Linked DNA regions of Homo sapiens. The protein of the gene in region 1 purifies or fractionates together with the protein of each later gene. This does not show direct contact. Each region holds a gene or a part of one and is shown in the gene's direction. Other genes may lie near its edges. The genes, in order: ULBP1 and THEM4.

The links.
Region 2: the proteins of ULBP1 (region 1) and THEM4 purify together in Homo sapiens (affinity purification with mass spectrometry; one large-scale study listed by BioGRID and IntAct). This does not show direct contact.

What each region holds. Positions count from the first base shown.
Region 1 is NC_000006.12:149,962,693-149,966,990, forward strand, and holds the start of ULBP1 (UL16-binding protein 1 isoform 1 precursor), read left to right. Parts: upstream 1-1,250; 5' UTR 1,251-1,357; coding exon 1,358-1,442; exon of another isoform or gene 1,443-2,790; intron 2,791-4,298. UniProt on the Homo sapiens protein: Binds and activates the KLRK1/NKG2D receptor, mediating natural killer cell cytotoxicity.
Region 2 is NC_000001.11:151,895,737-151,899,543, reverse strand, and holds part of THEM4 (acyl-coenzyme A thioesterase THEM4), read left to right. Parts: intron 1-3,807. UniProt on the Homo sapiens protein: Has acyl-CoA thioesterase activity towards medium and long-chain (C14 to C18) fatty acyl-CoA substrates, and probably plays a role in mitochondrial fatty acid metabolism. Plays a role in the apoptotic process, possibly via its regulation of AKT1 activity.

The sequences.
Region 1 (4,298 bases):
CCTGCCCCCAGCCCTGTACATGGGAGGCTTTTCTCACACACAGATCCCTGGGCCCACCAAGCTATTCCCCTCCCAAATCTGAGAACTGCCCACCCCCGTGTGACTGTTGTCCTGCCGACCACCCTTCATGTAGCCCCTCCTGGACAGAGGCTCTAGTGCATCAGGCCAGAACCTTTTGGCTCCTGTGTCCCTGCTCAGTCACAGAGATGGCTGCCATCCCATGTCCCTGTCCTGAAGCATAGTCAGGCCCTGGGCTTGGTCCAGGCCTCCTCCCCTTTCCCACAGCCTCAGGACCCTGGTGATTGATGGTCACCAGGTGAAGGTCTCCCCACATGAAGACTGTGTGGAGTGGGAGGTCTGTGCCTATTTTTCTCATTCATTGGGGAATGGGCTGAGTGGCTGGGGGCAAAGTGGGACTCAGGGGCTCTGCCCAGTCCTTACTGCAGGCTAAGCCCTCCCTTGCGGCCAAGAGCCACTGGGCCCTCCACCTCCCTCTGGCTTCTACCCGCAGATCTAGATGGTTTCATGGTGACTCAGAGGAGGATGCACTCGGGCGTCCCTTTTGAGGATGGCTGCAGGGACCATCCAGGGACTGAGCCGAGGTGCAGATACAGCCACGGATTTGGGTGTTGTTAGACACAGAAGGGTGTGTAGCAAAGTGAGCCCCACGCATGCGTAGACTCTTCCCTCGGCTTCTGCTCTCCATGGAAACACAACTGATCACATCATGATTGATCACGGTAGCCCTCTAGGGCTTTCTTTCTTTTCTTTTTTTTTTTTTCCAGAAGTCATAAAGGGATATAGAATATACTCAAAGACCACCTCATGCTTTTAGTGGAGAGGCAAAAAAGGTTCGCTCCGGAATGGGGAAGCGGCTGCGCCCTGGACGGAGAGGGGCGGGGACTTCGCGACTGCAGGCGGAGGGAGGGCGGGTGTCGCTGGCGCAGGCGGTGACAGGGAGACACCGCCGCCACTGAGTATTCCTATGCAAGTTTCTTCATCTTCCTGTGCATCAGTGTTTACACTGGGGTAATGATAAATGCTGTGTTGAAAAATTATTTGATGGGGCCATGGAAGGAACGGAAGGAACGGCGTCCTGGCCCGCTCGGGGCCCGCGCACGCCGCCACCAAGCCGCGGGGGCGGGTCGGAGGGGAGAGTTGCGTCAGCCAGGCCGCTGTCAGATGACGAGCCCGGGGCGTGACGGGGTGGAGCATCCCCAAAAAAGTGCATGCCTAGGATCCCGCCCAGTGTATCCCTGCGCGCGGCGGGCCGGGCTGGGCAGCTTTATAAACAGCCGTGGTGTGAGCCTCGAAGGGAACCATCAGCGCCTCCTGTCCACGGAGCTCCAGGTCTACAATGGCAGCGGCCGCCAGCCCCGCGTTCCTTCTGTGCCTCCCGCTTCTGCACCTGCTGTCTGGCTGGTCCCGGGCAGGATGGGTCGGTGAGTTCGGGGATGTAGCCTAAGCAGGGCGGGGGCCAAACCTGGGAGGTTGTGGACTGCAGCGGGTTTCAGAGGAGGGGAGGCTTCTGGAAGGACCGGCGCGATCTCCCTGAACGAACATCGCGGTCTCCCCGAACGTCGCGGTCCCTCCGAACGTCGCGGTCTCCCCGAACATCGCGGTGCCCCCGAACATCGCTGTCTCCCCGAACATCGCGATCTCCCCGAACATCGTGATCTCCCCAGACATGCCCAGCTGAAGGCACTCAGTTCCCCTCGGTGGCTCCTTTCCGCCGGGTCCGCTTCCTGCGGCTGCTGCTTGCCCCTCAGGCCAGGAGGTTTCTGGAAGGACCGGTGCTGTCTCCCCGAACATCGTGGTCTCCCCGAACATCGCGGCCTCTCCGAACATCGCCCTCTCTCCGAGCAACGCGATCTCCCCGAACATCGCGGTCTCCCCGAAAATCGCGATCTCCCCGAACATTGCCATCTCACCGAACATCGCGATCTCGCCGAACATGCCCGGCTGAAGGCACTCAGTTCCCCTCCGCGGCTCCTTTCCGCCGGGTCTGATTCCTGCGGCTGCTGCTTGCCCCGCAGGCCAGGAGGCTTCTGGTAGCACCGGCGCGATGCCCCCGAACATCGCGTTCTACCCCAACATCGCGATCCCTCCGAACATCGTGATCCCCCCCGAACATCGCCGTCCCCCCGAGTAACGCGGTCTCCCCGAACATCGCGGTCCCCCCGAACATCGCGGTACCCCCGAACATCGCCGTCTCCCCGTACATTGCGATCCCCCGAAACATTGCGATCTCCCCGAACATCGCGATCTCGCCGAACATGCCCGGCTGAAGGCACTCAGTTCCCCTCCGCGGCTCCTTTCCTCCGGGTCCGCTTCCTGCGGCTGCTGCTTGCCCCATAGGCCAGGAGGCTTCTGGGTGGACCAGCGCGATCTCCCCGAATATCGCGGTCTACCCGAACATCGCGGCCTCCCCGAACATCGCGGTCTCCCCGAACATCGCGATCCCCCAGAACATCGCGGCCTCCCCGAACATCGCGGTCTCCCCGAACATCGCGATCCCCCAGAACATCGCGGTCTACCCGAACATCGCGGCCTCCCCGAACATCGCGGTCTCCCCGAACATCGCGATCCCCCAGAACATCGCGGTCTCCCCGAACATCGCTGTCTCCCCGAACGTGCCTGGCTGAAGGCACTCAGTTCCCCTCCGGGGCTCCTTTCCGCCGAGTCCGCTTCCTGCAGCTGCTGCTAGCACCGCAGTCCAGGGGGAGTGTCAAAGAAGGCTGAAAAGGAATTGCAGGAGGGTGGAGGGACCAAAAGGCTACAGAGGGCAAGGTAGGGCGGGGATCCCTGGTGCAGACCCGCAGCCCCACTGGCCCTAGGGAAGGAGAAACCAGATTCCCGAACCCTAGCTGGGGTCAGGACAGGGGTAAAGGGGAGTTCCACAGGGACGCGATCACAGACTCCCCCATCAGCCACAGCCCTGCTCTGCTCTGACCTGCTGTTCACCACACAAAGCTTCCAGCAGCCCCAGGGCTCCCTGCCCTGGAACTTCGCCCCTACACTTTGCTGCAGACACTCACCTGCACGCAGGGGCTCACCAGACACTTGCTACCCTTCCCCTCACCATTCACTTTCACCACCCAGGTCGCATCCTTTCACTCCCCATCTCAGCTCACCCCTGTCACCACACAGGCCTCCCTCACCTCCCCATCCATGAAGGGGCCCTTAGCACCTCCCCCGACCAACTAGCACCTTGTCCCCTTTTGCCTGAGGACACACCCCAGCAAACACACCCCAGGCTTTCCACAAAACTTAATGCAGGGGGGACGGGAAATCCCATTTCCCTCACGATGACCCTGGGAGCGCCGGTGAGTAGAGGTGCCCACTTCTGCCCTTGGGTCCCAGACCCGCCTGTTCTTCCGACTGGGGAGCCAGGGTCATATAGAATAGTCACTAAGCAGACAGGAGTCAGCAAACCCTTTCTAGAAAGGAAAGGCTGAAGGCACTTTGGTCCTTGCTGGCCGTGAGTTCTCTGTCTGTGTGTCAAGTCCTGTCCCTTTGTAGAGCAACAGCAGGCAATGGTAACCTGCAAATAAAAGGGAGAGCAGATGTGGACCCTGTCCTAGGTTGCTGACCCCAGATGAGGGCACATGCTGTGTCCTGGCAATTGCTGCCCCATCCCCTAGGGTGTCATCTCCAAGTAGTGTAAGTTGAAGAGTCACAAGTGTGTCCTACCCTGCCTGTGGCTTCTGGGTGGTGTGGATGTGATGGATGTGAATGGAGGTCCTATGGTTCTGGGCCTACTGCGCCCCTCCTTTGCTGCTGGGTGGCATCATAGGTCCCTCAGGGCAATCAGGGACCCTCCTTAAAGCCTCAGGTGTGAGCTAAGGGTGAGGGGGTGCAGCCATGTAGTGTCCTGGGGATCGGGGCCAACTGCTTGTGCAGCTTCTTGGTTCCCTGTGGCCCTGCTCCTGCCCATCCCAGGAGACCCACCTGTGTCTTCTCACTGTGGGGCCTATATTCCTAATGACCTAAAGGGTGAGGAGCCCACCCTGTGATGGGCAGCTCTGAGGCTGTGTGGTCACTGCCCTCCCATAGCTGGAGGCCCATCTCCACAGGGGCCCAGGACCACAGCAGGAGCCACTTTTAAATGAGGGGATTTCACTGCTGTGAGTGGCACAGCCTTGCTTCTGAGCACTAGGGGATCCTGTTGTGATTCTGCGGTTGGCAATTGCCATGAAATCCACATAGCACCTTTTCCAACCACATATGCCTCTGGGATCTTAGGGAGTCCAGGGTCAAATAGCTGTATTGGTAGGTCCAGCGTCACCCCTCATCAC
Region 2 (3,807 bases), on another chromosome or scaffold:
TTATTGTTTTTTCTTTAAGCTATTTCCTTGAATATTTCTCCCTTCTTTTTTTTTTTTTTTTGACTCACTCTGTCGCCCAGGCTGGAGTGCAGTGGCACAATCTTGGCTCACTGCAACCTCCACCTCCCAGCTTCAAGCAATTCTCCTGCCTCAGCCTCCCGAGTAGCTGGAACTACAGGCGTGTGCCACCATGCCCAGCTAATTTTTGTATTTTTAGTAGAGATGGGGTTTCACCATGTTGGCCAGGATGGTCTCAATCTCTTGACCTTGTGATCTGCCCACCTTGGCCTCGCAAAGTGCTGGGATTACAGGCGTGAGTCACCACACCTGGCCCTCCCTTCACTTCTTGTATCATTTTTTGGATTTCCTTGCATTGGGCTTTGCCTTTCTCTGGTATCTCCCTGATTGCCTTAATAGCTAACCTCCTGAATTCTTTTTCAGATAAATCAGGGATTTCTTCTTGGTTTGAATCCATTGCTGGTGAACTAGTGTGATTTTTGGGGGGTGTCGACAAGCCTTGTTTTGTCATATTACCTGGGTAGGTTTTCTGGTTCCTTCTCATTTGGGTAGGTAGACTCTGTCAAAGGGAAGGTCTAGGGCTGAAGGCTGTTGTTCAGATTTTTGTGTTCCACAGGGTGTTCTGCTGATGTAGTACTCTCCCCCTTTTCCTGTGGATGTGGCTTCCTGTGAGCTGAACTACAGTGATTGTTTTCTCTCTTCTGGGTCTAGCCACCCAGTGAGTCTGCCCAGCTCTGGGTTGGTACTAGGAGTTGTCTGCACAGAGTCCTGTGATGTGAGCTGTCTATGGGTCTCCCAGCCATGAATACCAGTGCCTTTTCTGGTGGAGGTGGCAGAGGGTGCAGTGGACTCTGTGAGGGTTCTTAGCTTTGGTTTAATGCTCTACTTTTGTGCTGGTTGGCCTCCTGCCAAGAGGTGGCACTTTCCAGAAAGCATCAGCTGTAGCAGTATGGTGAGGGACCGGTGGTGGGCGGGGCCCTAGAACTCCCAAGATTATATGCCCTTTGTCTTCTGCTACCAGGGTGGATAGGGAAGGACCATCACCTGGGGCTGGGGCTAGGCACATCTGAGCTCAGACTCTCCTTGGGGGGATCTTGCTGCAGCTTCTGTGGGGGATGGCAGTGAGATTCCCGGGTCACTGGAGTTGTGTACCTAGAAGAATTATGGCTGCCTCTGCTGAGTCATACAGGTTGTCAGGGAAGTTGGGGAAAGCCGGCAGTCACAGGCCTCACCCAGCTCCCATGCAAACCGAAGGGCCGGTCTCACTCCCACCATGCCCTTCCAACATCCCCGTGTCTGTTTCCAGGTGGAGGGCAAGACGGGCTTGAAAACTTGTCTGAGGCTTTCCACCTCCCAGCTGCAAAAGAAAAGGGCTTTAGTTCTTCCCCGACCTGTGAAGTCTGCAAGCCGGGTTCATGCCCTCCCCGAGTTCTGGCCAGGAAGCTTCTCCCCAGTTCAAACTGTTACAAAGTTCAGCCGCAGAATTTCTTCTCCCTGTGGAATTTTACCCCCTGCTCCTTTGGCCACCCTCCTGATGAATCCCTGTGGTGCCAGGCAGGTATGGGCTGCTTGGGGACCCAGTGAGCTCCCAGGGCCTTTCTGCTGCTTCCCTTACCCTGTATTTCGCTCAGCTTAGCTCTCTAACTTGACTCAGCTCCAGGTAAAGTCAGAAATTTCTCCTGCAGACAGACCAGCTTCTCCAGTAGGGGTGTGTGTTCAGGAGAGGAGGGTCTTTCTTTCCCAATTCCACAGTTGGGGCACTCACAGTATTTGGGATGTCTCCCGGTCCTGCAGGAGTAGTCCGCTTCCTTCAGAGGGTCTGTGGGTCCTCTTGGGATTGCTGGTTCTTGCAGTCAATCTTGAACTAAAATTCACAATACAAGCCTCCACATGCTCAGCTAATACGATTTTGAAGAAAGTTGGAGGAATCACTCTGCCCAATCCAACACGTATTATGTTCCTACAATAATTAAGAACGATCACAAGGTCCCACAATAGGCTGTCTGCAAGCTGAGGAGCAAGGAGAGCCAGTCAGAGTCCCAAAACTGAAGAACCTGGAGTCCGATGTTCGAGGGCAGGAAGCATCCAGCATGGAAGAAAGATATAGGTTGGGAGGCCAGGCTGTCTCTTCTTCCATAGAGTTTTTGAGACAGGTTCTCTGTATTCTTCCCACCAAGCCAGCATTGGAGCCAGCCCCTGTCAGCAGAAAGCTGGTTCTCCCATCATACTGTGACCTCCCCGTTTTGGTTTTATGGTGCAGTGTGTGTATTGTAGGTACATTAAATCTGAATGAATTGATAAGGGTGGCTGAAAGTAGAATGCCATGGAGTTAATAGCTTCTGTGATCCTACATGTTCCAAGATAACTGCAGCAGTCCAAAAAGCCAGTTTCCTTTCTGGTGTTTGTGGGCATACACTTTGTTCTGCTCCTGAGTAAGTCACACTTTGTCTTCCAGGTCCTCTAGGATCCCTGCAATGTTCCATTTGTTGCCTGGGCATTGGAGTAATAGCAGTGCTTGGTGCTACAGAAATAGATGGATGGAAGTTGTGGTTACTGTGACACCAAAAACTTGTCCCCTGAGCTCCCTACTCCTCTTTCTCCTATATTTTTTGGTAATTGGCTCTGTCATTCACCTCACTGCAGGATTCAGAATCCTGGTACTGGGTCTTGTATTTCTCTTTTTCCCTTACCCTCCTTATCCAAATTGTCACCAAGTTCTGCTTCATGCTCTCATGATTTCTCACCTGAGTTACCCTAGTAGCTTCCAAATAGGGCCCTCTGATTTCAACCTTGGACACTCCCACTATCTTTTATATTATGGAAAGATCTAATCATGTTACCCCCCATTTAAAATCCCTCAGAGAGCACTGCAGATACAATTCAAGCCAGTTAGCTTAGTGTTAAGGTTTTACATGCATTTCTGCAGCCATCTGCCCCTATTCTTGCACCCTAATAATGCCAAACTTCTTTTAGGCCTTAATTTCATCATCTGCAAAATGAGGATAATAAATAGTACCTACTTCATATGATTGTAATAAGGCCCCTCAAAACTGTTTCATGCCTCTTTTGCCCACTGCATTAGGCTGTTCTCACATTGCTATAAAGAAATGCCTGAGGCTGCGTAATTTATAAAGAAAAGAAGTTTAATTGACTCACATTTCTACAGGCTATACAGGAAGCATGATGGTGGCATCTGCTTGGCTGCTGGGGAGGGCTCAGAAAACTTACAGTCAGCCGGGCACAGTGGCTCACTCCTGTAATCCCAGCACTTGGGGAGGCCGAGGTGGGCAGATCACCTAAGGTCAGAAGTTCGAGACCAGCCTGTCCAACATGGTGAAACCTCATCCCTACTAAAAATACAAAAATTAGCCGGGTGTGGTGGGGCGGCACCTGTAACTCCAGCTACTCAGAAGGCTGAGGCAGGAGAATCACTTGAACCCAGGAGGTGGAGGTTGCAGTGAGCCAAGATTGCGCCACTGCACTCCAGCCTGGACAACAGAGTGGGACTCTGTCTCAAAAAAAAAAAAAAAAAAAAAAGGAAGCAAGAAAACTTACAGTCATGGCAGAAGGCAAAGCAGGAGCAGGCACTTCACATGGACACAGCAAGAGCAAGAGTGCAAGGCACAAGGTACTATACACTTTTAAACAACCAGATCTCATGAGAACTCACTATCATGAGGACAGTACCGAGGAGGATGGTGCTAAACCGTCCATGAGAAATTCACCCCCATGATCCATTCACCTCCCACCAGGGCCCACCTCCAACTTTGGGGATTACATTTCAATATG